Linked DNA regions of Homo sapiens: regions 1 and 3 are each linked to region 2. The links come from fine-mapping of genetic effects on gene expression. A gene starts in region 2. Each other region holds a variant in brackets. All regions are shown on one strand. Distances are between the middles of the regions.

What was found. PIP is the estimated chance that this variant, and not a neighbour inherited with it, causes the effect.
Region 1: its variant is fine-mapped to the expression of ADAMTS17 in left ventricle (GTEx, PIP 0.93).
Region 3: its variant is fine-mapped to the expression of ADAMTS17 in whole blood (INTERVAL, PIP above 0.99).

What each region holds. Positions count from the first base shown.
Region 1 is chr15:100,228,761-100,239,106 of GRCh38, reverse strand. All of the region lies in intron 7 of ADAMTS17 (ADAM metallopeptidase with thrombospondin type 1 motif 17), which reads left to right. Among named protein-coding and RNA genes, the nearest start is that of ADAMTS17, 110 kb to the left of the region's middle. The variant G/A (reference allele first, on the strand shown) is at 4,345.
Region 2 is chr15:100,337,265-100,347,610 of GRCh38, reverse strand. It overlaps ADAMTS17 (ADAM metallopeptidase with thrombospondin type 1 motif 17), which reads left to right and starts at 5,636. Exons shown (of 22, transcript NM_139057.4): 1 at 5,636-5,790; 2 at 6,202-6,572. The coding sequence starts at 5,712. SPATA41 (spermatogenesis associated 41) reads left to right here. Exons shown (of 2, transcript NR_028139.1): 2 at 1,984-3,154. RefSeq lists an enhancer at 6,784-7,302.
Region 3 is chr15:99,924,613-99,934,958 of GRCh38, reverse strand. No RefSeq gene overlaps it. Among named protein-coding and RNA genes, the nearest start is that of LYSMD4, 200 kb to the right of the region's middle. RefSeq lists a silencer at 6,520-6,579 and an enhancer at 6,301-6,595. The variant G/A (reference allele first, on the strand shown) is at 4,056.

The sequences.
Region 1 (10,346 bases), 110 kb after region 2:
ATTTCGTTTTCTTTTTTGAGACGGAGTCTCGCTCTGTTGCCCAGGCTGGAGTGCAGTGGCGTGATCTCGGCTCACTGCAAGCTCCATCTCCTGGTTCAAGTGATTCTCCCATCTCAGTCTCCCGAGTACCTGGGGTTACAGGCACACGCCACTACGCCTGGCTAACTTTTGTATTTTTAGTAGAAACAGGGTTTCACCTGTTTCAGGTTGGCCAGGCTGGTCTTGAACTCCTGACCTCAAGTATTCTGCCCTCCTGGGCCTCCCAAAGTGCTGGAATTACAGGTGTGAGCCACCACGCCCTGCCTTTCTCGCTTTTCGATAGCATTTTAAGTGAGGCGTCATTATTCCTGTGAGCAGATGGGGAAACTGAGGCTCTAAAAGAATACATTTCTTGTCTGAAATTATGCCACTCGCGAGTGACAGAGCTGGGATCAAACTATCTCACAGCAAAGCCTGAGGGCTTAACTCTGGTCTTGTCTGCCAGACCTGTGCCCATTCATTTTGTTCTTGGCAGGTATTAAATTCCCATCGTTGCTTTTACCCTGTGTTTTCTCCTTTGCTGTGTCCATCACAGATTCTGTGTTCAGGACGGATCTTTGTCCTCACCGACATTCTGCTTTTCCGTCATTCATACTCAGTAAAACTCTATTGAGTGCCTACTGTGTGCCAGGCCCGGCTCCAGCCCTGGGGACACTCAAGGCACCAAACAAAGGCCGTTGCTCTTGTGGGGTGATGTTTTACTGGAGGGGATGCAACTCATGTGAAGTCAGTAAGTACACTCTAGAGTGTGGATGGAGGCTGGCGATAAAGGGAACATGGAAAGCAGATAAGAAGGGTGGGAAGTGGAGGGGCTGGGACCTGAAATTTTACCTGGAGTGGCCAAAGGCTTTGCTGAGAAGGTGACATTTGGACATTACACTCATGTGCAACCCGTTTGCAGGCCAGGGCCATTAGAAGTGTTGAGGTTGCCTATGCCAACACTATTAATTTCTGTGAGCAAAGGCAGGGTCCCCACCATGGACAGCAGGGTGAGTGGCTGTCCCACAGTGGGAGCAAGCTGGGTACCCTTGGGCCCACTCCGTCTTTGCTTCTTTTTTGCAGGGCTCCTAATCAGACCTGGATTTGAGTCTTTCTTCTGCCATTTCCTTGACCTTGGGCAAGTCACTTAAGAGACTTAGTGTTGGCCGGGCACAGTGGGCTCACACCTGTAATCCCAGCACTTTGGGAGACCGAGGTGGGTGGATCACCTGAGGTCAGGAGTTTGAGACCAGCCTGGCCAACATCGTGAAACCCTGTCTCTACTAAAAATATAAAAATTGGCCAGGCGTGGTGGCATGTGCCTATAATTCCAGCTACTTGGGAGGCGGAGACAGGAGAATTGCTTGAACCTGGGAGGCGGAGGTTGCACTGAGCTGAGATTGCACCATTGCACTCCAGCCTGGGTGACAGAGCGAGACTCTGTCTCAAAAAAAACAAAAACAAAAAACCTCAGCGTTCCTCCTTTCCCTACTTGTGTATTGAGACAGCAGTGTCTTCCCCACGGGACTGCTGTGAGGCTTGCCCATCGAGTCCCTCCTGCACAATGCCTGCTCTGTGAAGCTTGTCCTTGTGTCTGCTCAGCCTGCCCCAGGACATCATGCCCAGCCACCCTCTTCCTGTCGTCGTGTGGATCTCCTAGGGAGGGTGCCAGGACAGAGCTGCTCAGCCAGGGCAGGGCTGAGGCTTCCCAGGGGTGAGTCCTAATGTAGGTAAAGGCAGGGAAGTGAGACCCCAAAAGCAGTTAAAGCAAAGAGCAGAAGCCCAGGGGCCTGAGGCTTACTGAGGGAGAGCCTCCTGCTTGCCTGGTGCCGTCCTCAGACCTCGGCCCTCACATGGAGTCGCCTCCTGTAGGCGCCAGTTCACAGATGAAGGTGCTGAGGCTGGGCTCCTCACCGGGCTGCATAGTGACACGATGGTGGAGCTGGGAGGAACCTGGCTGGCCCGACACCCCAGTTAGGCTTGTGCTGAAAGGGTAAGATGTTGCAGGGGCAGGGTTGTGGGGGCCTGAGGAATTTGGCTTGCAGCTTCAGATTGGAGTCTGAGGATCGTGGGAGCTACTCCAAGTGAGCTGATCTCATGTTGTGCAGAGATGAGAGGAGAATTGAAGCTGGGAACCATGGGATTCAGCCGTAGAGTTCCCTCCTGTGACAGACCCATTCCTGGCTCTGTTTTGGGGGCAGAGGAGAGGGAGCATGGAACAAGTAGTTGGTATTTCTTTCTTTTTCTTTAGAGTCAGGAGTCTCACTCTGTTGCCCAGACTGGAGTGCAGTGGTGCAGTCATAGCTCACTGCAGCCTCGACCTCCTGGGCTCAAGCAATCCTCCCACTTCAGCCTCCTGAGTAGCTGGGACAAGAGGCACGCACCACTATGCCCAGCTAATGTTTTTATTTTATGTAGAAACAAGGTCTTACAGCGTTTCCCAGGCTGGTCTCAACCTCCTGGCCTCTAGTGATCCTCCTGTCTCAGCCTCCCAAGCTGCTGGGATTACAGGAGTGAGCTACTGCCGTTTTTTTGTTTGTTTGTTTGTTTTTTGTAAAGATTTAAAGAGGGTCCATGTTAGCTGTTCAGTGTTAGTAAGAGGGCTCTGTAGATTTACATGCCTCTGGATCACATGGAGGACTCCTTTAAACATAGCCGGCTGGACCTCACCCCAGATGTTTGCATTCGGTGGGCCTGGGCAGGGCTATGGATGCTGGTGGTGCTGGTGTGGGGACCACACTCTGAGAAGCCCTGCCTTATTGTGGCTGGGGGTCTTCTCTTGTTAGGGTTTTTTTTTTTTTTTTTAATGTCGTGGGTGACATGAATATAGGGCACCTCTCTCAATGTAATGTTTACTGTCATTTCATGATTACTTGTGCAAATATCGTAGACATTTACTTTTTTTACAAAAAGCAGTGATGATGGAAATTTCCGAGTTACTTCCTGTGTTCTCTTGCTCTGAGTCTGTGCGACTCTGGCGTCTGACCCAAATTAGAGATGGTAATTGAGTCACTGGTGACTGTGGATGTCTGTGATCATTAGGATATTGACTGTCATGCAAGGAATCGAATTTACCCCAAATGTTCAGCCACCTCATCAGATTTTCCATAAACTTGATGTTGGTATTTAAGAGAGGCAGGAGGAGTTGTGGTTTTGAGCCTGGCCTCTGCCTGGTTCAGATCCCAGCTCTGCTACCTTGAGTACAGCCTGGGCAATTTACTTGTCCTCATGTTTCCATTTCCTGATCTGTGGATTGAAGGTAATAGAATGAGGTAAAGGGCCCAGAACTCATAATAAATGCCCCATCATCATTGGCTGTGTTGTTCTTGTTTCAGTGCCCCCAGCACCTTTTGATGTCAGAGAGGGCCCTGGAAGTCCTCCGTGGTGGTGTTTGGGAAGAGAGCTCCCCGAAGCGAATGGTTCTCAAAGGGTGATCCCAGACCACAGCATCAGCAAAACCTGGGAAGGTATGAGGAATGCACATTCTCAGCTTCCTCGGGGTCCTTCTGGGTCAGAATCTCTGAGGTGATGCCGAGCATCTGTGATGTGGCAAGCCTTCCGGAGATTCTGACACACGCTTAATTTTGAGAACCACTGATCTGAGTCTTGGTGGGCAGCACCTGAGACAGGAGGGCATGGATGACACCTGAGAGACGGGAGGGCTCAACTCTACTGGCCGTATGTGTGTGCATGGTGTGGGGTGGTCGGGGAGGTCAGTGTGGGGAGGATCTTTGCATGCTCAGGAAAGCCAGGTGCCCAGCAGCTGTGTAAGTAACCAGGGGGCCAGCACTGCACAGGCCCTTGCCTGCCACCAGCCCTACTGACATTCTTCCTAGAACAAGCATGACGCATGGCTTTTCTAGCACATGGAATCCTGGTCACACCACTGCTGACAGAAGAGGCTTCTGATAAAGGCCATTTCTCCCTTCCGTTTCTCCCCGAGCACCTCCTGCATCCTATCTCATCGTGGGCCCGCGTCTGCCTTCCTGTTCTCGAATCGCTGAGGCAGGAGTCATGGCCCAGCACTATTTTCCCTCTTCCAGTGGCATTCTGGGGTTTTATTCCGTGAACATAATTACCTTGTTTTTCTTCTTAAGCCAATTCAGCTTATTCATGCCTCTTCCCTCATGTTCCCACTGCCTTTCTCTTGTTTGGTTGCACAATATTCCAGATATTTTCTATTGTCTCCTCTACCCCGTGGTTACAAAATCAAACAGGACAAAACAGCTGTGCATAGGCTGTGGAGGGGGCGCCTTGGGAGAAGCTGGGATGGCCCCTTCCTTTCCACCCTGGCTCAGCTGCTGATGGAATGGAAGGTTTCCCGGA[G/A]AGGCAGCAGTCAGAGGAGTGGTCGGGGAGTCCCTGGGGCTGCCTTACGGGCTGGTTGCAGCGTTTCCTCTGCCACAGAGCTGCGAATGCCAAGGTAAACATATGTTTTGAGATAAAGTGGAAACCCCAGGAGGTTTTCATCCTAGAAGAGGAAGCAATAAGACAGTCACGTGTTGGACCAAGGAGTCGTTTTCCCCCAAACCCAGCTTTGCGCACCCTGTGTGGGAAAGTTGGAGGGAATTGGAAAAGCAGGGATTATGGATGGGGCCAATGAGACAGGTCACAGAGTGCAAGAAGGGGCTTGAAGAGGCAGCTGGCTCTGCTCCTTCCCAGTACATGACTGTGGGCCCGTATCCTTCATCTTCCTTACTGGTAGCATCAGGACTGGACTACCATATGCCAGGCGGTGTCCTGGGGATCAAATGTGGAACGAACGTAAAGCATTTGGCACAGTGCCTGTCTGCCTCGTGGAAAACGGTGGCTGCGAGTTTTATTAGCTCTTTCTAGTAGTCGACTGGCTGTTGTACTGTCTTTGTTTCTGAAGGTGCCCGATACACACTTCTAATCCATCTGCAATGCCTGTCCACTCCACCTTCAAAATATATTCCCGATCAGACCTCTTTGAACCACACCGGCCATTCCTCCCACGGTCCAGGCCTGTGCTGCCCTTGCCTGCTGGGTCTCCTCCCTGCCACGGAGCTTCCTCTTCAACAGTTTTTTCTTACATGACAGGCAGAGGGTTACTTTTAAGCCCCAAACCAGATCCTGTGGGTTCCCTGCTCAGAATCTTCTAACAGCTTCTGAAGACACTTAAGATAGAACTGACAGAACAGTAGGGCGCCCAGGACATGTGGCCCAGGGTTCTCCTGCCAACCTCTCTTCCTGGTGCTCACTCCCGGGAAGCCACCTCTGCCTCAGCCTCCTCCTTCCCTTGCCAGGCTCGCCTCCATCTCCAGCTTGGCACCCATAATCTTCCTGGGCCCGGCACACTCTCCCCCTGACATCTCCATAACTCGCTCTCTTCCCACCGTTAGGTCTCTGTTCAAGAGCATCTCCTCAGAGAGACAGAAGCGGCCTCTCCATTTAGTTTTCAGTTATTGCTGGACATTGCGTGTTTCTCTGTCCTTTGCCTGTGTGATGGGAACACAGACCCAGCATCTTCACGCCCCCACTGTGTTCCCATCGACTGCACATGAGAGATGCAATGAGTTTTATTAATACAACTGATTTCACTAATCAAAACATTTAAACATATTTTTCGAGCTAATAAAACTTGCCCATCTGCCCTGTAATGGTATTTGGAGAGATGAAGGACTCAGGACACAGTGCTAGGGAATTTCCAGTTCCGTTTGTGACTCCTGTTGACCATCTTAAAAAACGGCGACTTATATGACTTTTCAGTGAGTTAATCTTCTGTATTTTTTTTTTTTTTGAGATGGAGTTTCACTCTTGTTGCCCAGGCTGGAGTGCCATAGCGCAATCTTGGCTCACTGCAACCTCTGCCTCCTGGGTTCAAGCGATTCTCCTGCCTCAGCATCCTGAGTACCTGGGGTTACAGGCGTCCGTCCCCACGCCCGACTCATTTTTTGTCTTTTTAGTAGAGACGGGATTTCACCATGTTGGACAGACTAGTCTGGAGCTCCTGACCTCAGGTGATCCACCATCCTTAGCCTCCCAAAGTGCTAGGATTATAGGCGTGAGCCACCGCGCCTGGCCTCTTCTGTACCATTTAACACCCTTTTTTATCTGTGCAGTAGGTAGAGGAACCTCAGATTCAACCCATATTTACTGAATACCTCAATACTCTCCCTTTAAAAACTGACATGGGGCAGTGGACCTTGGAGATTCACGGCGTCCCTCCTCTGGGGTGGAGTGTGAGATGGCCTCTGCCTGTGAGACCTGCTGCAGTGGAATCGATCTGCGCCGCCTCCAACCGAGACCTGAAGACGCAAATTCCATGGTGTCAGTGTGAAGAACTGTGAGGAGGCAGTGAGAGGAGGGCCTGGGCAGGGTGTCCCGCATGGGCCAAATGGCCAAGTCACTCCTGCTATTCAGGAAACAGGCTTGGTGGGGTCACATAACTTGTCCACTGACACAGGAAGACTTCAGTTCTGGTGACTTGGTGTCCTGCACTTACCGCCAGAGCCCTTTGTGGCTGCCCAGCGTGAGACCTTCGTTGCCATCAAAAGGAGGGGAAGGGAATAGCCGATTGGGCATCTACGTCCCACCAGCGTGTTTCATGTTAAGAAGAAGGTGGGTTTACTGGGAGGATGTGTCACCTCTCTGCATGACTTGATGTGAGTCTGGGAACACCAAGTGTTCATTCCATGTCTGGCACTATTTTCATCTCCATCAGGCTTTCAGAGCCCAGGGATGATGGGTCGATACCCGGGACTTGAACCTCACATCTGCCTTGAGGGGAAGGAGAGGAGTTGGGGAGGTGCTGGCAGGGGGAAGCCCACCTCCCACCCTGGCTCCATGCTGCAGGCAGGTGTCCTGCCCGGGTGGATTGGCTTCCGCTGCTAGGCCAGGGTTAGCCTAGTTCTGGTGAGGAAAGTTCTCCATTCTGAGCCTTGTAATGAAATCTAGAGCTGCCTCTGGCCAGGTATCCCCAACCCAACCCAATTTTTCTGCCTATCTCATTGGAAGTGTCAATTTCTTTATTACTTCAGCTGAGGGAAAACAGGTCTTGACACTAAGACAATTCAAGTGGGGGCAAGGTCGCCGTGATTCATTTTTGTTACTCTGTTGAGTTCTAGAGTAAGTATAATTCACAAGTAAAATGAAGGTTCAGGAATTAGATGTGGAGACTAAGGACGATGCCAAGATTTATTCTATGTCTGTGCTCAGCCTAAATTGGGCTCAAAAGGAAGAAAAAGGATGAGGAATTACTACACATTATTCGCTTCTCCTGAGGATGACGGTAAGATGACCTAATACAATCAGGGGCGAATCTGAGGCCAGAAAATGCATACCCAAAGCTCAGAAGGAGGCAACAGACCATTGAGACCCTTTTGGACAAGACTGAGTGAGTTCAAGAAAAACCGGCACCTGACCAGCCAAGTAGGTGATTCCAAACTCACTCCTGCCCTGAGAACCCTTGGACACACCAGGAAATTACACATTGTGTGACATCAGCTTGGGAGAAGGCCTTTTTATCCCAAGTCTGATCAGCTTCTGTAACACTTAGAAAAAGGATTTGATTACAGGCGGTCAGTGGAGAAGGAAACAGATCACCATCAGTAACTGGCCAGGATTCTTTTCTTCCTCATTCATGGTCCCTGTCAGGCCAGCGAATGGGAGGTGCTGATGTTCCTGTGGGAAGGCAGTTATCCCCTGTGGATTCCAGTGGCTGGTTTATGAAATAAGAAGCTTATGCACACTGGGAATTGTCTTTAATGAAATGAGAATTAGCCAGAGAGTTAGACATAGGGGTCATTGCCAAGAGGAATTAACACTGAAGCCTCAATTAAAATTTCCACTGGATTATCTGATAAGTAGTTGTGCCTTTGGTATTTTATTGTCTTTGACAAATGGCATGAGTTCAGAATTTGAAGCAACGTAGGCCATAACATAACACGGTCCTGAAAATAATGAGGCACACCATTGCTAGATACAAAGTACTTAAATTCCCTGATGGAAGTATTTATTTTAAAGACTGCTTTGGATTATCTTCCTCCCAGGATGTGCAGGCGCTCTCTCTGTGTTCTGATGGGGTTGCCAACTTCACAATTCCTTTTGGTGCCAACAGAGTTCTCAGCACCAGGTGGAAAGGGTGGCTGCCTTCCAAGACATACCTTGCTTTATTGCTAATCCCTCTGTCTCCTCCCCCCGTGGGCTGTTCTTGTCCCCTGGCTGCTGGGAGACAGAGTGATGGCTTCCTAATTGGGTCCCCAGGCAGTCCCAACACCTGTTTCAGGAGGTGTTTGGTATCAACAGTGGACATGTTTCCGAAGCTAGGTGTGTGTGTGTTTAAATTCATTTTTATAATTTTGTTTCTTCCAAGCATTGTCGTTACCCACTATTGGTGCCTTCATTTAAACAATAAATGCTTTCATTCAAAATGCAATACTTCCTAAGCTTTTGCTGAGTGATCAAACCCGAAAAAAGTGTTAAATGCCAGTCACTCCCATCTCAACCCAGTGGTCAGGCCTGAGATAGCTGTTATGAAGATGCCTCAGGACAATTAGACTTTTCAGGAACTTTTCGGCTATGATGCCATTGCAATTTGCAGACCATCCCAGTCTAACCCCGTTTCCTCCACCCCTTGCTCTCCTTGCACCATTGCTGGCCTCAGATCCCTCCCTGCTGTGAGGTTTGGAATTAGCTCGTGTGTCTATGGCATGGATGACTTCTCCTCCAACTCTGTACCAGCCAGCATCTGGAAAGAGTTATACACAGGAATCTGTTACTATCTAGCCTGCCCTCAGCCCTGGATGCGCATCTGATGTGGAGACCCACTGGACGCTCTGTAGAATGTGGAGTTCTCTTTGAAGGTACCACAAAGATAGGGGTCTGCAAGTGTGGCTTTCGTGCACCGCGGGTGTCATTCGTGACGTGTTTGTGCTCTTCTGCAAGCCCAAACTGCGGAGAAAGTTTAACTGAGAAAACCACTTATTCTGAGTTGTCTTCTCAGTTAATATGCCCCTGGTTATGTTTAAGTGCCCGGTGTTGGTTATGCTCGTGCAGCTTGGCCAGGAAACTTCTAGGACTTCAGCATGGGATGGGTGGTTGGCAGTGGGGGCAGAGTGAGTTGGAGCTAGTTGATGTGCTGTGGGTGCATCCTCCTTAGCTGTGAGGGAGGCCAACACAGGCAGGCTTTCCCTGCACTGATCATCTCAGGTGACTGTGTGGCAATTTCCTGCTGGTCAGGGAAGGTGCTGTGGCCTTTCATCTTGGCTCTGTGTCCACCTGCTCACTGGAGCTCCATACTTCACCACTGCAAGAGAGTTGCCCTTGCGTTCTCTGTCTACACTTCAAAGGAAGATGTTTGCATTTGGTCAGGGAGAGGGAACTTTGCAGTTAGTTCTCCTGAGGCTCTGTGGGTGTTTTGTTGTGGGAGGAGGCGTGTCAGCATCTTCAACGGATCATGTGACCTTTGAGTGGTTGCCTCTGGGACATCATATGATTCTTTGAGGTCAACAGAGGGTGGATCCTTTGGACTGCAGCCAGGAGACTGGGTCCTTTTTAGTTTAGCGGGACCAGCCTTGCTGTGGTTCTCAGTCCAGAGAGAAGACTTCCTGAATGTGAAGTGAGCATCCAGGTCAACAGGCAGAACCACTGTGCGTCATAGAACAGAAGCCACTGAAATAAGAGTGATTGTCCCATGGACCAAGACATCAGCAGAGATTTGTAAGGCAGGAATTTGCAAGGGAAGGCATCAGCAACACTCATGTTTCACGTCAGAGTTGCAGGGCAGGATATTAGATAAGAGGCCTGGGAGTCCAGTCAATGGTCACTTCTGTCAATGTGGGGAGGGGGTGGGGAGAGCTACCTAGGAGGGAGAGTGATTCATAGCCTGAAACCATCTTTGCGTCCTATTTGCAAGCTGTTGGGTTGTGCAGGACTTAAAGCTGTGCTGGCTCCTCAGCACCTGCAGTGTCAGTGGTGAGCTACTCTGTTGGGGTCTTCAGGGATACTCCATAAGAACCATCTTCCCCTCCCAGGCTTGGAACCAGTGGTAGTCACAGTGTCTGTGAGCATTACTACCAAGGAAGCTGATTGGAGAAGGGGGCCCAAATGTCACTGAATGTTTCACCTTAGAATGATCCAATTTGCTCCCTGAAATTTAACGGAAGCACTATCCAACTTCTCTTCTGCAACTGTCACAGACAGGACCGCAGGGCAATGGCCCCCTCGTAGAGGCAGGTGACACTGTGGGTGGTGAGCCCACCACAGGGCCCCATCCTCCCACAGGTAGGCAGGGAGAGCTGGGGTTGGGGGGCTAGTGAGCAGGCCAGCTCCTTCCCCCAGACCATTGGACAGACAAGTCACCTGCCCTT
Region 2 (10,346 bases):
TTGAAAAGTTCACCATGAAGTTGAATTGCCTAAACTTATACATTGTATGGGCACTGAGATGCAATTTTTAGGGCTGTGTGGGCATCAGCGATGCCTGTTTTCAATACATTGTAGCTATGCTCAGTGTCATGGGCCTTGTAGGGCTGACCTCTTTTTGTCCAAGCATTGAAGCCAATCTAAAACTCTTTTCCAAAAAGAAAATGTTTTCTTTGCTAATAAGTCACCATCAACTGCAGCAGAGGCAGCTGTTTGGGCTTCACAATTTGCGGAAGCACATGCCAGCCTGGCTCTGTTTTGTGCTTGTTCACAGTATATGGCTTTGGCCTTGTTCAGCATCAGGGAGTAGCTGTTCCTTGGGTCATGCATGGAGTTGGATTTAACCCTGGCTTTCAGCTGGCCAGTCCTCATCAGGAGCTTGGGCAGGAGAAATAGTACTCTGGTGAATGGTCTGAAGACATTAGATCATAGATGACCTTGGCTGCAAGCAACTAAATCCAGACCACAACAGTTTATCCAAATAGGGTTAACCAAACAAGTACAATGTGTACCCAAATGATATCAGTGTCCCATGATCCTTCCATCATCCACTGGATGATTTCTTAATTCAAAGTCAAACAAAAACAAAAGCAGATTTGAAACATTCTCATCCATCCTTGAAACTGGATCACATGCCATGGTCTCGCTCTTTGAAGTGGTCAACTGAACAGCTGGATACATGGTCTGGAGCTGGGAGGAGGAGTGCCTTAGTCCATTCCTGCTGCTATGACAAAATAGCTTAGACTTGGTAATTTATAAATAATAGACATTTATTTCTCATTGTTCTGGTGGCTGGGAAGTCCAAGGTCAAGGTGCCGGCAGATTCAGTGTCTGGTAAGCTCTCTGTGTCCAGGATGACACCTTGTTGCTGCATCTTCTGAAGAGGACAAATGCTGTGTCCTCATATGGCAGAAGAGATGCAGGGCAAAAGGGCCAAGAAGCCCTCTTGAGCCTCTTTAATGAGGGCATTAATTCCATTCATGAGGGCAGAGCCCTCATGACTTTGGGCCTTAACCCAAAAGGCTCCACCTCTTAATACCAGCACAATGAGGTAAGTTTCACCATGAATTTTGGAGGGACATAAACATTCAAACCGCGGCAAAGAGTCTGGACCAGGGGATGACTCTGTGAAGTGCGTGCTTGTCCACTGCCAAAAGAAAGGGATAAGATGAGGAATGCGAAGCTGAGAAGGGGAGGGTTCGAGATCAGCACTGCATTGAGAGAAAGGGGAGTTGGGCAGAGGAGTGTAGTAGCAATGGTGGGCATGGCGATGGCTCAAATGAAGAAGGTGATTGCAGATTTCCCTGTTGCATGCTTGGCTCCAGTGGTGTTCAGAGCTCAACCACATGCTCAGTGAGAGTAGAGAGTTGAGTTTACCCAGGCCTGTAGTTCTGCATGACAACTGCAGTGAAAAGGGATAGGGGAGGGTGCTGAGCATATTGGCAAGAGTGTTTTCAGAGTCATGGGGCCTGGAATGCAAGCTGGATATGGAGGCAAGTGAAGAGAGGCTGGTGGGTTGGGAGATGCAGACTGAGAGACCTTCTGAGGTAGGAGCATTTGGACGAGCATGCTGGGAGGACAAGAAGCTGTGGTCAGAGGTGGATGTTCAAGTTTTGGAAGGTGGAACAGCTAGGGGTGATGACAAGGTGTAGGGTGTGAATTTGAGAGTGGACAGTTGGGGCAGCATAGCACAGAAGGTCACTGAAGGAGGAAATTGAGGAGCCCAGAGCCCAGGGTGGGGGATGGGAGTTGTCTATATGTGTGTCTGTTAGGGGTCGAGTTTGGCTGCATATAACAGACAACCCAAATAGCAACAGCTTAAAAGAGACAAGAGTATATTTTTTTTCTGATATAGCAAAAAGTGCAGAAGTAGACAGCTCAGGTCTGGCATGGTGACTCCAAGATGTCATCAGCAACCCAGAGTTCATTGATCTTTTTGCTTCCCAGGGGTCTGGCACTCTTCCTCATGCTTACGAGATGGCTGCTGGAATTCCAGGAATCACATGCAAATTCTAGTCAGGAGCAAAGAGGAAGAGACACAGTGAAAAGGGGTATACAGCGGCAGAAGGAAGCTCCTCAAATGAACTCTGCTAGAACTCTAGCCAGTAGCTTCTCCTTCTATCACAGTGGCCAGAACTGTGACAAGTGACCATCCTTAGGGGAAAAAAGATGCTGAGAAATGTGAATTTTGTTGCCACCTTACATTTTCAAAGGAGTTCCATTCGTAAGTACAGAACGCTCAGAGAAGAGGCAGCAGATCTAGGATATGGAGCAGCAGCTCTTAAGGGCACAGTGGGAAGGTTTCAAGACTGAGGAGGATCTTGGATTTGGGTAGGGGAAGGCAGTTCACAGTATTGTGGAGGAAATGCTGTGAAAGAGAAAGTGGAAGGCATGGAAGCTTAAACTTTTAATATGACTGGTGAATACAAGGATGAAGGGCAAAGGGAATTCAGACTCATGGTGGTCAGATTAAGACCTTCAGCGGCTCTGTCTCCCAGCCCCACATACCCACTTCCATGTTCTGCTCTTTACTGAAGCTGAAAGTCTGCAACCTTCATTCTCTGACTCCCTTACATTTTCTTAGGCTTCTTGCTAGCTTCTGCCAAAAAGAGGCCCTGGCAGGAGATTAGATGGCAGGAGGCAGAGGTAAGGATTCCATGTTAACAGGTGCTGGAAGTTGCTGGTGTGGCAATGAGAACTGGGCCCCGGTCAAGGCAGCACTACTTTGGTAGATCCAGAATCAACCATGATAACCGTGACAGTGTCTTCAACAGTGCAGCAGTAGACACAGGCCCCTGGTGCTGGAATCCAATACAGGGACAGGAGCAGCACGGAGTCACGGAACACCGTCTTGCCTTCATGTCACTTTACCATTTCTTCTTTCTCCCTCTTACTCTACCAGCTACCTGTGGAGATGTTGAACCTTTTATCTGTCGCTGTCTGCTTAGGAACAGAAGAAAAGGCAGCTGATTGCTTGACTCAGCTTTCAGCTTGATTTTTTTCCTTTGGCAGAGTGAATTGGGGTCCCAGGTGTTCATTTTCCTTTTGTAGTACCTTTCCTCAGCATGCAATTAATACAAAAAGAACAATAAACCTTAACAAAGTTTGGCTTGTATTATTCCAGACTTTCCTCTTGGATTTTATGTACACTTATCTGAATCCATGCAGATCATGTCATGTGTGTCTGTGTGTTTATACACATTTTTTTTTCGGTGTGCCTCATTCTGCAACTTGATTTTTTAAAAAATTCGATAACTGATCTTGGAGATCTGTCCATGTTGTTACATATATGAGATTTTTGTATTTCCTTTAATTAATGGTGTTCAAGTAGCCGTTTATGTAACGATGAACATTCAGGTTTTTGCAATTTTTTGCTCTTAATAAGGTGCCCTGGTGAACAAACATTCTTGTACATGTGCCAGAGTTTCTCTGGAGTAATTAACCAGCGTGGAATTACAGAGTTGTAGAATGTGTGCATTTTTAGTTTTATTAAAACTAAAAAGTAAAACTTTAATTTTACAGTTTGCCCAATTGTTCCTCAGAGTGGCTGTGCCAATTTATACTCTCCACCCCTAGGTAGGAGAGTGTCCTCTCTAATTCTTGATTTTTCTAAGCTCTTTAATTTTGGTTAGTTGGGAGATAAAATAGTATCTTTCTGTTTTAGTTTTCATGTCCCTATGGACTAATTTTAGCATTTGAGCATCTTGGATAGGTTCTTGATAGGTTGGTGATGGCTACTTCAGGCTGACTTGCGCTTGTGAGGTGGTGTGGCCCATACTCCATGGTTTTCAGTGGCAGGCCTTAGAAATGGCTCTTTTTGACAAAAAGATTCACTAAGAAACTTACTGTGATATCTTTAAAAAAATTAATATTTTGTGAGTACGTAGTAGGTGTATATGTTTACAAAATGTATATACATGAAATTTTTTGATATGGCCATACAATGAGTAATAATCCCATCAGGGTAAATGAGGTGTCCATCACCTCAATCACCAAGGTTTCTTGTGCTGCCAGAAAATGCTACTGAGCTGTCAGTCATCTGAGGTTGTTGACCTGGACAGAGGCAAGGGGGAGAAACACAGCCCCAGGCCTGGCCAAGAGCAGGACCTGTGCAGATGCCCCCAGAACTGTAGGTGCCAAGCAGTGAGGGCAGCCCCTTTTGTGGCAAGCCTCTGTGGAGGGTCACTGTTCAGCCTTGGGGTTCATTATATTTCGGGGAAGGTGGCCAGTGTTATAGATTCCTTCAGATGATATGTAATCCTGTGATGAATTTAGATTCCGAGGCTTCAAGCAGCATCCAGCGGGGAACTATAACCTTTCTGCTATGATAAAATGGAAAAGAGCAGGACAGGGAAGGGACGGGAAACCTGAGATTGGTTATGGTTACACTTAATTGTTTTTTTTGTTTTGTTTGGTTTTGTTTTGTTTTTTTGAGATGGAGTCTTGCTCTGTTGCCCAGGCTGGAGTGCAGTGGCACAATCTCGGCTCACTGCAACCTCCACCCCCCGGGTTCAAGCGATTCTTCTGCCTTAGCCTCCCGAGTAGCTGGGACTACAGGTGTGCGCCATCACGCCTGGCTAATTTTTGTATTTTTAGTAGAGACAGGGTTTCACCATATTGGCCAGGCTAGTCTGGAACCCCTGACTTCGTGACCCGCCCGCCTTGGCCTCCCAAAGTGCTGGGATTACAGGCATGAGCCTCTACAAGATGCTATTCAGCAAGCTAATGGAGTCACCTTCCCTGCAGACCTCAGTTATATTGTGGCAGGAAAGGATCAACTCATTCTGTTTCTGGGAGACTCACGTTCAAGGCTAGGCTTTGGGACTTTGTGCCTCCGTTTCCTAACCTGTAACACTGAGTCCTGCTTCCCTCGGGGCGGGGGGATCCTGCTGTTAATAAGAAGCACCAAGCCAGAAATCAGGATCACAAATTCTAGCCTCTGCTCCAACAGGAACTCTCTGGGTAACTTCAGCGTTTTTCCTTAAGCTCTCTCTCTTCCTCAGTTTTTCAGTCTGTAAGAGGGTGTGAGCATGCGTGTTGCACTGGCTCCTGTGGGATTAAAGAAGACAGGAGGTGTGAAGAGTTTGGATAAACGCCGCGGATATAGCCTTCAGGTGCTAACTCAGGTGTGCGGGAAAGTGGACTGGGAGTCTTTGCGGCCACAAACAACTAAAACCTAACTTCAGATGTAAAGATTATATGCAGTTTTGGATGAAACCGCTTGGCCGGGGCGATTTCCGCCCTACCTTCCCGGGAAACTGGGCAGCAGGCTGAGAGAGTTCCAAAATGAGGACAAGCTCTGAAGACCAGCCCCGCATCCTCCAGCTCTTCCAGGGTCCCACGGCTCCGGTCGGCTCCCGCGCGCCACCTGGTGCCGTGTCCCCGCCACTGCCCAGAAACCACGTGTAAGAAAGCGCTGACAACCTAACTACGCACTGTGGTTTCGACCCATCCCAACCAGTAGGGAAGGAGGAGGCGGGGCGGAGGAAAGCGAGGGCCCAATCCCCTCCCGCCTTCCGAGGGGAAGGCGGGGCTTGGGGTTTACCACGTTGGGTTTGTCCGCAGCGCTAATTACTTTTTCCAAAGGCTGGAGGGCTTCACTCCGGCTGGCGCCGCCGCCTAGCGCGCTCCTGCTTCGCCGCCACGGTCCGGGGGGGCTGCCGGTCCCGGGTACCATGTGTGACGGCGCCCTGCTGCCTCCGCTCGTCCTGCCCGTGCTGCTGCTGCTGGTTTGGGGACTGGACCCGGGCACAGGTAGCGCCCCCTCCCACAGCCCTCTTCACCCCGCGTCCTGCGGCTACCTTCCCTCTGCGTTCTCGCGGCGTCCTGGCGGCCCGGGGGCGGCGGCGGGACCGCTGACGGCGCCCGAGCGGAGGAGGCGCGGGCCGCGGCCGGAGTACGGGAATCGGGTGGCTCCGTGGCAGGCGCGCCGCCGCCGGGTCTCCGCTCGCCGATGCGCGGCGCCGTTCCGGGAGGTGCTCGCGCGGCTGCGCCGGAGACCCTCCCCGGGTGGCGCGGGCCAGCGTGGAGGTGCCGGGCGAGGGAAGGGAAGGCAGCGCCGGCTCCGGGTCGCGCTGTCCCCGCGCTGGCGCGGCTGGCGGCCAGCGGGAGGGCGGGCGTCCGGGCGGGCCCCGCCGCGCTGACGCGTCTCCTCTCTCCCCGCAGCTGTCGGCGACGCGGCGGCCGACGTGGAGGTGGTGCTCCCGTGGCGGGTGCGCCCCGACGACGTGCACCTGCCGCCGCTGCCCGCAGCCCCCGGGCCCCGACGGCGGCGACGCCCCCGCACGCCCCCAGCCGCCCCGCGCGCCCGGCCCGGAGAGCGCGCCCTGCTGCTGCACCTGCCGGCCTTCGGGCGCGACCTGTACCTTCAGCTGCGCCGCGACCTGCGCTTCCTGTCCCGAGGCTTCGAGGTGGAGGAGGCGGGCGCGGCCCGGCGCCGCGGCCGCCCCGCCGAGCTGTGCTTCTACTCGGGCCGTGTGCTCGGCCACCCCGGCTCCCTCGTCTCGCTCAGCGCCTGCGGCGCCGCCGGCGGCCTGGTACTGCCCGCGCCACCTCCGGGTCGGCCCGTCCGGTCTGTTGCGACGCAGAGTGGTCGCCGTGGAGGGTGGGGGTGGGGCGCCTCTGCTGGAAGTCCAGCCTCCAGGGGAACCGGAGGGAACCCCCTGCCTTTCCACCTCTCCCCATCCCCCACCCCGGCCTTCGGTACCCTCTATAGGCAAAGGGGGTGGGAGGGGCAGCATCCCAGTCCAGCGCCTCTGCAGCCCGTGGAACCCGCGCGGAGCTGGGGTTGCGTGGGGTATACGCCGCCCGCTCTAGGGAGCGCAGATCTGGCAGGGATGAAACTGTCAGGGCCCTGGACAGAGGCGCCTTGGCCCCAATGTAGAGAACACTGCATCTGCACCGCCGTGTCAAAGTGTATGTCACGGGAGTACCTGTGTACGTGTAGGTGTTATGTTCTTGGACTTGGAGGTGGGGGAGTGGGCATTCACCTCCCTTCCTTTTGAGTCTTCTCTCTGTACCTGGAACAGGAAGTTTGGAGAGGTACCCAGACAGGCCACGGCTCACCCCACTCTTCCTAGCTGAAACGTAAGAAACAGGAGAGAAAGGGTGTTTGTCTTTGCTTCCTTATACTATTAGTAGGCATTTATCTGGTGCCCACCCCCAACCAGGCCTGAGGGGTGTTTACATTGGTGATAAACCCTATTCCTGCCCCCAGGAGCTCCCTTGCTGTGGCAGTAACTTCCCTGCCCCGAAGTTCCTGGCCTGTTGCATTTGAGGCACCCGGAACAGGTGCTCCCAGGGGGAGGGGGGGTTCTTGTGTGCACTTGCCCTGCCTGCGCGCACACTTGATCATGTGGCTACACTGGCGCCCAGACGAGCACTCAGCTTCTCCATCGTGCCCCGAAAGCCGCACACATGGCCGGCAGATGGGCTGCCCCCAGCGAAGCTTGGTATGGACCCAGAGCATGAACCGCAGGGGTTCTCTGTCTTCTGTCATGACTGGCCTCTGGGGAGGCAGTTTCTGATATTAGTTTGTGTCTGTCCTTCCCAGGCACAAGAAACTGCTCCCCACACCTCCACCTTTTCTTGTGCCACCATCTAGAATTCTCCAGCCCTTACTCACAGAGTCTGTGGCGAGTCCTCGAGAATCTACGAAGCTAGAAGGCTGGGGGTGCAAGGTCTTATGTGAGACCTCTCTTTCTTCCCAGTCCTGCGGGTATCTCTGTGTGTAGTTTCCTAGATCAGTCTGGCTCTCCTTTCAGGAATTTTCTGAGTTCTGATTAGGGTATGATAGACTTTTGCTCAGCTGGGAAAAATAGGCAACTTTGGTGAAACAAGGAAAGTGATATAGACCCTTGGAGGGGGCCTGGTAGGAAGGAGCTAATGTGGACCTGGGGCGGGGAATGTGGACCTGGGGCGGGGAATGTGGACCTGGGGCGGGGAATGTGGACCTGGGGCGGGGAATGTGGACCTGGGGCGGGGAATGTGGACCTGGGGCGGGGAATGTGGGTTGTAGGCAAGGAGGCTTAAGTAGGAGTGAGAAAGGCTCAGATCACTGTAGGGCTCGGGTCAAGGCTGTATCATGTTCTGGGAGGGACTGGAAGGGCCACATCATTTTTCCTGTTTTTGCCAAAGTGTTTAAAGTCTAAGTCACATCATTGTACTGTACATGGAAACATCTGAATCCCATTTGCTGCGGTTTAGTGAGTTTCTGTAGAGGTCAGAGTTTATACTTCTTGGTGTAAAGTTTCCAGCAAGGAGCTATCTGTGAAGGCGCCGAGGTGGAAAGCTGGATAACATTGATTTAAAATCCTTGCAGAATGAGGGCTGGGCCCTGTCATAGATGGCATCTCAGCCAGCTTCTCGGCAAGACTGTCCTTCCCTTTAGCACCATGTGAGGGTGCTGTGCTTTAGATAAAGGAACCTGGCCAACAGGCTGAGTTCAGTGTGTGCCAGTGGCGGTTGTACCTCTAAGACTTCAGCTTTTAAATTCCTGCCGGAGCAGACACTTCTGTTGTTTAGTCTGCCTTGTTCATCCCGTTCGTGTGAGCTGGACATTGGACACTTCCCCCTCTGTACGTACTGAAGGCCGGAGGGAAGAGACAGTGGGGTGACTTGGAGGTGGACCCTTTGTTTGCAAGGTGGTCCTGAAAGCGTAAAGAAAAGAAAGCAACAGGAATTTGGGCTAACCAAGTTTGCATTGCAGACTAGCTTTGACTTTGGTTCTCAGTTCAGGTGGCTGATGATGTTGTGTTAGTCCCTCTTGACTGTGGTACTGTGGTAGAAGCTCTGTGAGTGGAGATGTGGAGTTGTGTGTGTGTGTATTTGCTACGACAGGCTCGGCTATAAGGTGTGGGAAGGGAGGCTATAAGTAGATGATTTTTGGTGGCCATGGAGGAGGGGCATTTCGAAGTGTCCTTGTATCTAAAAATGAGCAAGAGTCGGGCAAACTTCTTCTCTTAAGGACCAGAAAATAAATAGTTTAGGCTTTGGGGGCCACATAGCCTTTGTTGCAGCTGCTCAAAGCTGCCCTTTCAGTGTGAAAGCAGCTACAGCTACGGATGGCATACGAGCGAATGGATGTGGCCACGTTCAACAAAACTTCGTTCCGGATGTTGAGTATCATGTTAATTGCTGGTAAGTCCCACTGTATTGAACATCTCCTAAAGGGCTCAGTAGAGAGTGTTGAGTGCCTGGGCTGGGGGCACACACGTTCTATTCCATGTTGCATGGAATCTGTGCTGTTTGTCTCCAGAGATGTTTGCTGTCTGTTTAAAGGAGACGAATTATTAGAATAGATCATTCCGTAGCTGTTTAGGGGCCATGGAGAGTAAAGCACCTGTTCCATTTTTGCTCCTTTTCCTTTTGACAGCAGATAGAGGCATGGGCCTGCCGCATTCCTTTCTTGGTGTCTTATCCTGAAAAGCTGGGCCAGCTGCGCCTTTTGGATCTTCAAAGGCCATAGACTTAAGTATTAATTGTTTTCTGTTTATGCTTCTTCATTGTATTTACATTTCCAAGAGTCTTTAGAGCATGGGTTTTTTGGAAGTGTTTCTATGAGCATATCATTTCAAAGCATGAACTTCAGGTGTCTGAGGAAGGCCTTTACACTCTTCGTGAATTTATGTAAGTTCGGATCAGCTGCCTCTGTGATCAGGACTGGATCGTGGAAGGCCAGTGGAATTGGAATCAGGCTGAACTTCATAGGTAGACAGGATAGCGGAGAGGGCACTTCAAGAACAGCATGAGCGTCAGGCTCTGAAAAGAATCTTTGCAGCTTGTCTGAAGTGAGTGGCTGGAGGACTTGTTTTAGGAAGAGTGAACGAGAGGAGGGGAGGGCTGGAGGCCCCCTGCTGTCGGGTTTGGTCTGCCAAGCAGTGGCCATCCTTTCTTGGATGATACTCACAAAGCTTGGGAAGGCCACCCACTGGAATGTGTCCACCCCTTCTTGGAAAAAGCTGTGGCCTGCCAGGGGCACACTGTGAGATGGTGGGACCAGACAGACCACCAAGGAGCTCTGGGCTGCAAAACATTAAGCCATAACCGCGTTCCAGGTCACCTTGAAGGACTGTGAGAAGGTCAGGGATCCACGTTCCAGGCCACCTTGAAGGACTGTGAGAAGGTCGGGGATCCTCCTACCATAGCTCTTCTGTTGCCACAGCCACATGCTGTAGGACTCTTATTTGGAATCACTGGGGTCAGTCTGGTGGCCCAGCCCACCTCACTCTGACTGGTCAGCCTGACTGCAGACCACGTGTCCATGTTGGTAGCACGTCATTTGTGGCACATGGGACATTCATAGTTCCGTA
Region 3 (10,346 bases), 410 kb after region 2:
TTTTTGGGCTATTGACACCTTCAGGACTCACTCATTAGGTCCACTGCCTGCCAGTTACATTCCCTGCACTCCCCACACTCTTGGCGTATCTCAGTCACTCCTCATATTGCAGGTTATCTGTTTTATGTCTGTATCTAGGACCCATTGTACTCATTTCTTTACCCCAACTGGTAGCAAAAGCCCAGCACATACTAGATGGCCAAGACAAGTTTTGGGACCACGACATATGTAACCTAGTTGAGAAACACTAGGCAAACACCTCAAGAGCAAGCACAGGGTCTTATTCTGGCAACTTTGCAGTGTTCAGCACACCATAGGGATCATTTGACTGATTCTTCTCTGGCCCAACCAAAGCTAAGCAGCTGCCAAGCAGGTATGGTCATTCATCCATCCATCATTTGAGGATCAACTTTCTGCCAGGCACTGAGCTAGGTGCTGTAGATTTTAGCTTGGCCATCTCTAAATCGGAGAGCTAATGAAGATGCTGAGCCTTCACCACTCAAAGAGATCCTCTGGTGTCATTTGGGAAGAGGGAGGTTGCCCTGGAGCAGTCACCACGTCTCAGAGTCTGTTCTTAGAAGGCAAAGGGGAAGAGTTCTGCTCTAGACCTAGCCAACAGTTGGTGCTGTTGGTGTGGATGGGAGCAGAGGGAGGGGCTGGCCCTGTGATCACAGTTTTGCCCATGCTTTAGTGATGAATAGTGCGTATCCCTTCTCTGCAGCTGACATTCACTTCTTTAGGGCTTTAACTGCTCCTTTTCCTTCAGGGGCAGAGTCAACCAGTTGCTCAGTTCATGGTGTGCTAGCACAATTTCTCCATGTGAGGTCCTGCTCCTACTGTGCTTTACTTTATTCCTCTTTATCCCAATTCTCCACTCCCACCTTTGCACATTCATCCCTACTGTTGCATTTAATGTTTATCTTTCTTTTTCTCCGCACACTTGAGAAACCTGACAAGTTGATTGATAGGTATGTATTTTCAGGTTCCTACAAATGATGCAGTGTTAGAGATTTTGTCCTGCTTCTTACTTTTCTCACTCACGCTATTTTTAAGGCTGTAGCCACAGTGATGGGTGTCCACCCTGTTTGTGGCTGTGGGTCATCCATGTGACAATCTCATTTTACTCACCCATTCCCCAGTGATGGATGCCAGCCTCTAACTCCACTGTCCCCAAACAATACTGTGGTAAATCACTTCTCGGTCGCTTTGTGTGCAAGTCTTTGGGACATATGCCCAGGAACAAAATGTCTAGCACTTGAATGATACAGGTATCAATGTCACTAAGCAGAGCGAGATCCCCCTCTACAATGGCTGTACTCAGCTACCTGTCAGCCAACCACGTATGGAATATCTCAACCTTCACATCCCTGTGGCTGGCGCAGGCTCAGAGAGAGGCCAGTGTAGCTCAAGGTCTAGAGTTATCAAGGAAAAGCCATCGTTCTGAGGTCCATCTCCTGAAAGGCGGCCTCTCCTGAGTGTCATCCTGTCTCATCTTTTCCTCACCCCGGGTCCTCCCTGGTGGATATGGTTCTCCTCCTCATCCCCCAAACTTCTCATGCCCCAGCATGGGCCACCCCACCACAGACTTGGCATCTGGGGTGGGTGGACAGGAAGGGGGGTGGACTGGCCTACCCAAGGGGCAGAGCATTGGCCTTGGCAATTTGGTGCAGGAAGACAGGATCCAGGAGGGAGATGAGCTCTCACCCCGGATACGCGTTCAGAAGCAGCATTCAAGTTCCCCCTCCCAGTTTTTCATCCGATGCTCACCACGCCCCCTGGGTAACCGGGATGTGTAAAGTTGAAGAACCCCCACTCCCAAGTGAGGTGATTTGCCTCAAGGAGAGGCTGAGTTGAGGCCAGAACCTCCTTGGCTTTTTGGACATTCAGGACCCAGTGGTACAGGGGTGGGGGTGGGCCGCTTGCTCCCCAGAGAAGAGAGGGAGGAATAGAGAAAGGGGAAGAGGAGCCAGGCCAGCAACTGCAGATAAACAAGGATATTCCCAGGGCTCAGCCCCAGGGCACTTGAAAGCCAGCAGCTCAGGCAGAGGCTGTGATGGGTCCCCCAGCAGAGCTTCAGTGAAACACCACGGTGTCACCAGTCATTTGTCTCCCTGGCACAGGGCCCACTCATCTACTCTTGGCTTGGAATGAACTGGTTCCCCAGAGGAGAGGCTATCTGGCTAATTGTGCACAAACACATAGAACTTGCTGCAGTCAAGACCTGCGTGCCGACCCCACCACGCCGGCCAGTCCAGGGTCATGTGGCCGCCTCTTCACCTCCAGCAAATGAAGCTGGTACAGCTGTTGGCAGAGCCAGAAGGGGTACTTTCTAGGCACATACCTGCCCCTAGGATGGGAGGCCTTTGTATACATTTTTATTGTAGATGGGGTCTGAGACAATTTTTCTGTCCCTACTCTGGTGTCCACGGACTGTCACACCACCACTTCTGCTTTCAGGCAGAAAACCACCTCCCAGCAGGCTCCCACTGAGGACTCTCGCCTGACCTGGAAACCCCTGCTCCTCTCTCTGCTGCCATCTGCCTCAGGGAGAGTTGGGCTGGAGGAGGGAGTGGAGCAGTGGGGACAGGAAGTCCCTCGCTAGACTCAGCAAAACAGGGACCCTTGGCTTGGGTGGGCAGCTTTCTGCAGCCCCCTTTGTTTCCACCTGGAAACGTTGATTTCCCCAGTTGGACACTCAGAATCTCAAATGACATCAAGGCCACAAACAAATCTCTCCTCCTCTGCAGGGCATTCTTTTCACATGCCCTCAGAGCATGACTGAGCTTGGAGGAATTCTGAGCCATGGTTGGTTTGCTGCAAATGGGCATCGTCAGGTGTTCCTGTAGCCAGGGAAACAGGAAATGAGGACAGAGGAGAGGGGATGCCAGTAGAGCTTTGAGTCCTCGGGTTCCAAGAGGGGAGAAGATGGATGTGGCATGCGTGTCTAGGGCCCAGGCTGAAGGCCCTGAACGGCAGAGGAGACCGGGGCTACGGGGTCACGTCATGGAGCAGAAGGCCTGTGCACCAGAACGCACCATGAGGCCACCATCTGGGGGTCCACAGGGGCAGCTGAACCTCATCATGCCTAGGGTTTCTGGTCACCTCCTACCTATGCAGAGCTGTGGACAATAAGCTGGACCAGCAGTTACCACCCGAAAAGCAAGAGGAGAGCTCACCACAGTCATGCCTTGCCAGCCCCTCTTCCTGACCCCAACATTAGAACAGCAAGTGCCAAGAAGCAGGAGAGTCATGTGCAACTGCCCCTACCCCACTCTCCATCTATGGAAACACTAGGTTTAGCCTGCACTAGGTGGAGAAGGGAAGAGAGATTGACGTTTCAAAATGAGCTATCAGGGGACTTCTATTTACAGCAATATGAGAAACTAGGTAACCTGAAAGGCAACACCCACCGCAATATGCTCAGAATTGCTTGGTGCAATAGAACAGACTCTAAATGCAGAGTTCAACAGAAAGTAAAGGCCAAAAGATGAACTGGGAACCAACAATTAGGTATACAACTTCATGATCTCCCCACCCACCAGGGCTGGCATCCTCTCACTAACTCAGGGGCTTGGATTGTTTTGTTTTGCTTTTCGAGACAGAGTCTCACTCTGCCACCCAGGTTGGAGTGCAGTGGCACAATCTCAGCTCACTGCAACCTCCACCTCCCGGGTTCAAGTGATTCTCATGCTTCAGCCTCCCGAGTAGCTGGGATTACAGATGTGCATCACTATGCCTGGCTAGTTTTTATATTTATTTTTAGTAGAAATGGGGTTTTGCCATGTTGACCAGGCTGGTCTTGAACTCCTGGCCTCATGTGATCCACCCAACTTGGCCTCCCAAAGTGCCAGGATTACAGGCGTGTGCCACCATCCCTGGCCTAGGGACTTGGGTTTTAATGCTGTGAGGAATTGGAGAGGAAGCCTTGGACCTGCCCCACAACACTCATAAATGAGGGGTCCTTCAAGGGCAGGATGCACTCTCAGTAATCATCATCTAGAGAAAGTTCCCCCACTGGCAGTTATGTCAGGGATATTAGACCTGGCCTGGGCTCT[G/A]AGTAGGGAAAATGATTCTCCTATCAATTTGTCATCACAGGCCCATACTCATGTGATGGGATTAGGCTGTATATGACATGCATGGGCCAGAAAATCCCCAGGTCAAAACATTGGTATGCAAAGCAGTCCTGGGCTGGTGATAACGCCAAGCACCTGGCTGAAGCAAACCCAAAAGCACTCTGGAGGCACCCACTCTCATGTAAGGTACAGAAGATTCCAATAGATGAAGTCCCCATTAAGACCAGCTCACAATCCCAAATTACAAAACACTGGCAACTCCAAGTCAATAAACTTCAGGGATGGAAAGCCAGTAGAATGATCAAAACAGAGCCTACAAGATAAATTGGCTTAAAATTACTAAAGACCTAAAATGAGAAATAAAAACAGAAAAAAAGAATCAAGATACATGAAAAAATAGGTAAATTTTAAAAAGTATTTCCAGAAAGTAAAATTTTAAAAATATAATTACTGAAATAATAGAAATACCTCTGCAGATGGGTTACCGCTGATTCTCAAAGTTTATCACACCTGAGGATCCCCTGGAGGGCTTCTTAAACACAGACTGCAGGGCCACCTCCAGAGTTTCTGGGGCAGGGCCTGAGAATTTGCATTTATAAGAAGTACCCAGGTGAAGCTGCACTGATGATCTGGGGACAACGGGTTAGCTGATTAACTCTGGCCAAAGACAAAATTCTGACTGACCAAAAGTAGTTGACAAGTTAGTGAATAAAGTTGGGTTATTTTAATAGGTCTTCTATCCAGGGGAAAGGAGTTTCAATCAGCACACAGTTGAAAGCAGTAACTGAGAAAAATAAAACCATGTCCACGTGCATGTTTCAAATACACTGTCAGGATTTTCAATAGTCTAAGTAGTCTGTATCTTGTCCAAGGTTACAAGAGACAAAGAACATTATATATTGAGAAGAGATTCAATACAGCAAGAATAAGTAGTTATAAACATTTAGCACTTAACAGAATATGCAAAGCAGAAAGGGAGCGAATTGGAGGGAAAAGTAGTTCTACAATAATCGTCGGAGACCTCAGTCCCCCACTTTCAATAATGGAAAGAACAACCAGACAGAAGATAAGAAAGGAAATGAGAGGACTTGAACAACACAGCAAGCCAAGTGGACCTAACACACACCACCAGGCCCCCAGTGCATTTCAGCTGAGGCCTCTGGACACGAGGCCCACGACAGGTGTCTTAGTGGGCCCACGACTGCTGTGACAAATTACCACAAACTTGCTGGCTTCCAACAACACACGTTTATGATCTTACAGTCCTGGAGGTCGAAAGAGTAAAAAGAGGTCTCACTGAGCTGAAATGAAGCTGCTGGCAGGGCTGCGTTTCTTTCCGGAGGTTCGTTGGGAGAACCTAGTCCCTTACCTTTTCCAGCTGCTAGGCAGAGGCCGCCCTGTTCCGTGGCCCGTCCTCCATCCCCAAAGCCAGAAAAACCGGGCTGAGACCTCCTGGTGCTGTCGGCCTTCTCTGTTCTCTGTTCTCTCTCTTTCTTTCTCTCGCCTCTCTTCCTTATAAGGACAGGTGATTGCATTGGGCCCACCTGGGTGACCCAGGCTAATCTCCTTACCCATTAAGCTCCCCATCCTCAGCCTTTTCTTCTGTCAGATGGAGAATATAATCCCCTAGTTTTAGGGAATTTTGAGGAATAAATCGGATTACTAAACTGTGAGTTCCTTGAGTCAATAAAGATTAACTGAGCACTTACTGTGTGTAAGGCAACTTTCCTAAGTGCTAGGGATACGACAGTGAACAAAACACACAAAAATGCGTGTTTCTGTCTGTGTGTGCAATTAATCTACCTTAATTCCATCCGCAACTGTAATTCCCTTTTGCCATGTAAGGGGACAAATTCACAGGCTCTGGGGAGTAGGATGTGGACACCCTTGGGGCGTTTATTCTGCCTTCCGCAGTGGAGGACTGCAGACGCTGTGGGCGAAATGTTTGGAGCTGGTGCCATTAAAACCCTCTGCAGTTCCCGCTCAAGGTGCAACTCTCAAGTACTGGCACCTGGGTTTGCGGCCACGTGAGGCTCTGAGCAGCATGGGCCTTGGGGACACTGAAGATATCAGAGGCCCTAGAGGTATGTGTGGCTTCCCAGGTTAAAGTTGGCACGGAGAGAGAAGAGCGTGGCAAGTCAGGCAAACCCGGTGAACTCCCTTTGTCAGCCTTCCTTCCGTCTGCCACAAGGAAGGCCTGTACCAGAACCCAGGGCCTTCTGGGCTGAGAGGCCGCAGCCTGCATTGGAAGGCCACTGAGTCACGGACGTGGGAAGATGACCATCGGTGTCCGAGACGCGAGTATAAAGCCAGGCGCTGCCACTCACCAAGCTGCGCGATCTCGGGCGAGCAGCGCTTCGCCAGGCTCGGCCCACGGCGACGCCACAGTGCCACCTGCCGGCCGGACGCCCTCGCTCGCGCACCCCGCCCTCCTCACTCGCGCACCCCGCCCTCCTCACTCGCGCACCCCGCCCTCCTCACTCGCGCACCCCGCCCTCCTCACTCGCGCACTCCCCCGCCCTCCTCACTCGCGCACTCCCCCGCCCTCCTCACTCGCGCACTCCCCCGCCCTCCTCACTCGCGCACCCCGCCCTCCTCACTCGCGCACCCCGCCCTCCTCACTCGCGCACCCCGCCCTCCTCACTCGCGCACCCCGCCCTCCTCACTCGCGCACTCCCCCGCCCTCCTCACTCGCGCACTCCCCCGCCCTCCTCACTCGCGCACTCCCCCGCCCTCCTCACTCGCGCACTCCCCCGCCCTCCTCACTCGCGCACCCCTCCCTCCTCACTCGCGCACTCCCCCGCCCTCCTCACTCGCGCACTCCCCCGCCCTCCTCACTCGCGCACTCCCCCGCCCTCCTCACTCGCGCACTCCCCCGCCCTCCTCACTCGCGCACCCCGCCCTCCTCACTCGCGCACTCCCCCGCCCTCCTCACTCGCGCACCCCGCCCTCCTCTCTCGCGCACCCCGCCCTCCTCACTCGCGCACTCCCCCGCCCTCCTCACTCGCGCACCCCGCCCTCCTCTCTCGCGCACCCCGCCCTCCTCACTCGCGCACCCCGCCCTCCTCACTCGCGCACTCCCCCGCCCTCCTCACTCGCGCACCCCTCCCTCCTCACTCGCGCACTCCCCCGCCCTCCTCACTCGCGCACTCCCCCGCCCTCCTCACTCGCGCACTCCCCCGCCCTCCTCACTCGCGCACTCCCCCGCCCTCCTCACTCGCGCACCCCGCCCTCCTCACTCGCGCACCCCGCCCTCCTCACTCGCGCACTCCCCCGCCCTCCTCACTCGCGCACCCCGCCCTCCTCACTCGCGCACTCCCCCGCCCTCCTCACTCGCGCACCCCGCCCTCCTCTCTCGCGCACCCCGCCCTCCTCACTCGCGCACTCCCCCGCCCTCCTCACTCGCGCACCCCGCCCTCCTCTCTCGCGCACCCCGCCCTCCTCACTCGCGCACTCCCCCGCCCTCCTCACTCGCGCACTCCCCCGCCCTCCTCACTCGCGCACCCCGCCCTCCTCACTCGCGCACTCCCCCGCCCTCCTCACTCGCGCACTCCCCCGCCCTCCTCACTCGCGCACCCCGCCCTCCTCACTCGCGCACTCCCCCGCCCTCCTCACTCGCGCACTCCCCCGCCCTCCTCACTCGCGCACCCCGCCCTCCTCACTCGCGCACTCCCCCGCCCTCCTCACTCGCGCACCCCGCCCTCCTCTCTCGCGCACCCCGCCCTCCTCACTCGCGCACTCCCCCGCCCTCCTCACTCGCGCACTCCCCCGCCCTCCTCACTCGCGCACCCCTCCCTCCTCACTCGCGCACTCCCCCGCCCTCCTCACTCGCGCACTCCCCCGCCCTCCTCACTCGCGCACTCCCCCGCCCTCCTCACTCGCGCACTCCCCCGCCCTCCTCACTCGCGCACCCCGCCCTCCTCACTCGCGCACTCCCCCGCCCTCCTCACTCGCGCACCCCGCCCTCCTCTCTCGCGCACTCCCCCGCCCTCCTCACTCGCGCACCCCTCCCTCCTCACTCGCGCACTCCCCCGCCCTCCTCACTCGCGCACTCCCCCGCCCTCCTCACTCGCGCACTCCCCCGCCCTCCTCACTCGCGCACTCCCCCGCCCTCCTCACTCGCGCACTCCCCCGCCCTCCTCACTCGCGCACTCCCCCGCCCTCCTCACTCGCGCACCCCTCCCTCCTCACTCGCGCACCCCGCCCTCCTCACTCGCGCACTCCCCCGCCCTCCTCACTCGCGCACTCCCCCGCCCTCCTCACTCGCGCACCCCGCCCTCCTCACTCGCGCACCCCGCCCTCCTCACTCGCGCACCCCGCCCTCCTCACTCGCGCACCCCGCCCTCCTCACTCGCGCACTCCCCCGCCCTCCTCACTCGCGCACCCCGCCCTCCTCACTCGCGCACCCCGCCCTCCTCACTCGCGCACCCCGCCCTCCTCTCTCGCGCACCCCGCCCTCCTCACTCGCGCACCCCGCCCGGCAGTGCGGCCCGCACCCGCCCCCTCCCGAGCACCCTGGCGCGCACTTAGCCAGTACCTGCGCGTGCACCTCGGCGTTCAACGCGGCCTTTGCGGCGGCTCTCCCCTTGGACCTGAGGCTTCCCGCTTCGTTCTAGAGTGAAGGCTGGAAGAGCCCAGACAGGAAGGTGTCAGCTCTGTCCCACACCCAGGTGGCCTGTGCTGTCCCTTAAGTACAGCAGCAACAACGTCACCTGGGGAGGAAAGCTTCATGGAGCTCACCAGATTTGCAGGGGTGAAAGATGGAGGGAGGAGGGGAGTTGGATTCCTATACTAGTTTTTATCTGGATAACTTCTGAGCCAAGCACAGCTTTGTGAGCCTCTAGAGACCCCCTAACCTACTTGCATCAACTGGACATAAAGAGGGGAGCCCAATAGCAACTGCATCCATTCTAAAACCAAAAGCTACTGTTATTCGCCAGGCATGGTAGTAAGTGTCCTATGAGTGTTAATTCATCCATCAAACATTCTTTGAGCTTCCCCTCTGAGCCAGATCGTGTCTAGGTGCCTGGGATGCAGAGGTAGCGAACGTGCCCACACAGGCATACACACGCATTCCTATCCCCTCTACTTCGTCGGCGCTGTTGTTTGACATAGGAATTACTACCACCTAAAACACTATATATTTTACTTTATTTTTCTTATATTATTGTCTGCTACCACACATGTATGCCTGTGGACATCCACACCAACCCCCACACACACACAGACACATTTTTTGTGTGTTTTGTTCACTTTTGTATCCCTAGCACTTAGGAAAGTTGCCTTACACACAGTAAGTGCTCACTCTTTATCAGCTCAAGGAACTCACGATTTGGTAATCTGATGTATTCCTCAAAATTCCCTAAAACTAGGGGATTATATTGTTCATTTGACAGAAGAAAAGGCTGAGGATGGGGAGTGGCCTGCATGGACTGATTCAACTCTTAGCAGTGGAGATGGGAGGCAGACCCAGGTCTGCTGATCCTAAATCCTGTCCTCTGAGTGTCCCCCATAAGCTAATTACTGGAGAAAGCAGAAAGAAAAGAAACCACTATTATCAGCATTGCTTTTCATTTTATTAATCTGAAGAGTGAACACAGTGAAAGCAGGCAGCTACATGTTAGCTGTAGACTGTAGACCACATCTGTTCAAGAATCCCTCCGAGATCATTACATATAAAAATGGCAAATAAAATAATTTTAGCTTTATTTATTTATTTAAAGTTCTACTGAGATAGCAATAAAATAAGGAAAACAATGAGAGGGCAGAAATTCCATTGGAATCAAAATCCTGTATGAGTGAGCTGAATTTTGTCCTGAAGGCTTCTGCTGGTTTCCAGTCGCCTAGAACCACAGTTACACTGAACTATGCTGGGTACAAATGACCAAAGTAAGAGGGGAGCTGGGCTGGAGGAAGAGTTCTGACCAGAGACCCCTGCATAAAGTCAGAAATCCCAGAACTCAATACCTTCAGTGGGTGAGCACAGAAGCAAAGAAATAAAACATTCCCCTAACACATTCCTAACCATCTGTCCCTATTTGACTAGGAAGAGGGCAAGAATCTACACTTTTTGTGAAAATTGAAGCCCCCTCGCAAATAGAAAGTTTTGGGTTTGGTGTTTTTTGTTTGTTTTTTGAGATGGAGTCTCACTGTGTCACCCAGGCTGGAGTGCAGTGGCGTGATCTCGGCTCACTGCAAGCTCTGCCTCCCGGGTTCACACCATTCTCCTGCCTCAGCCTCCCGAGTAGCTGGGACTACAGACGCCCGCCACCA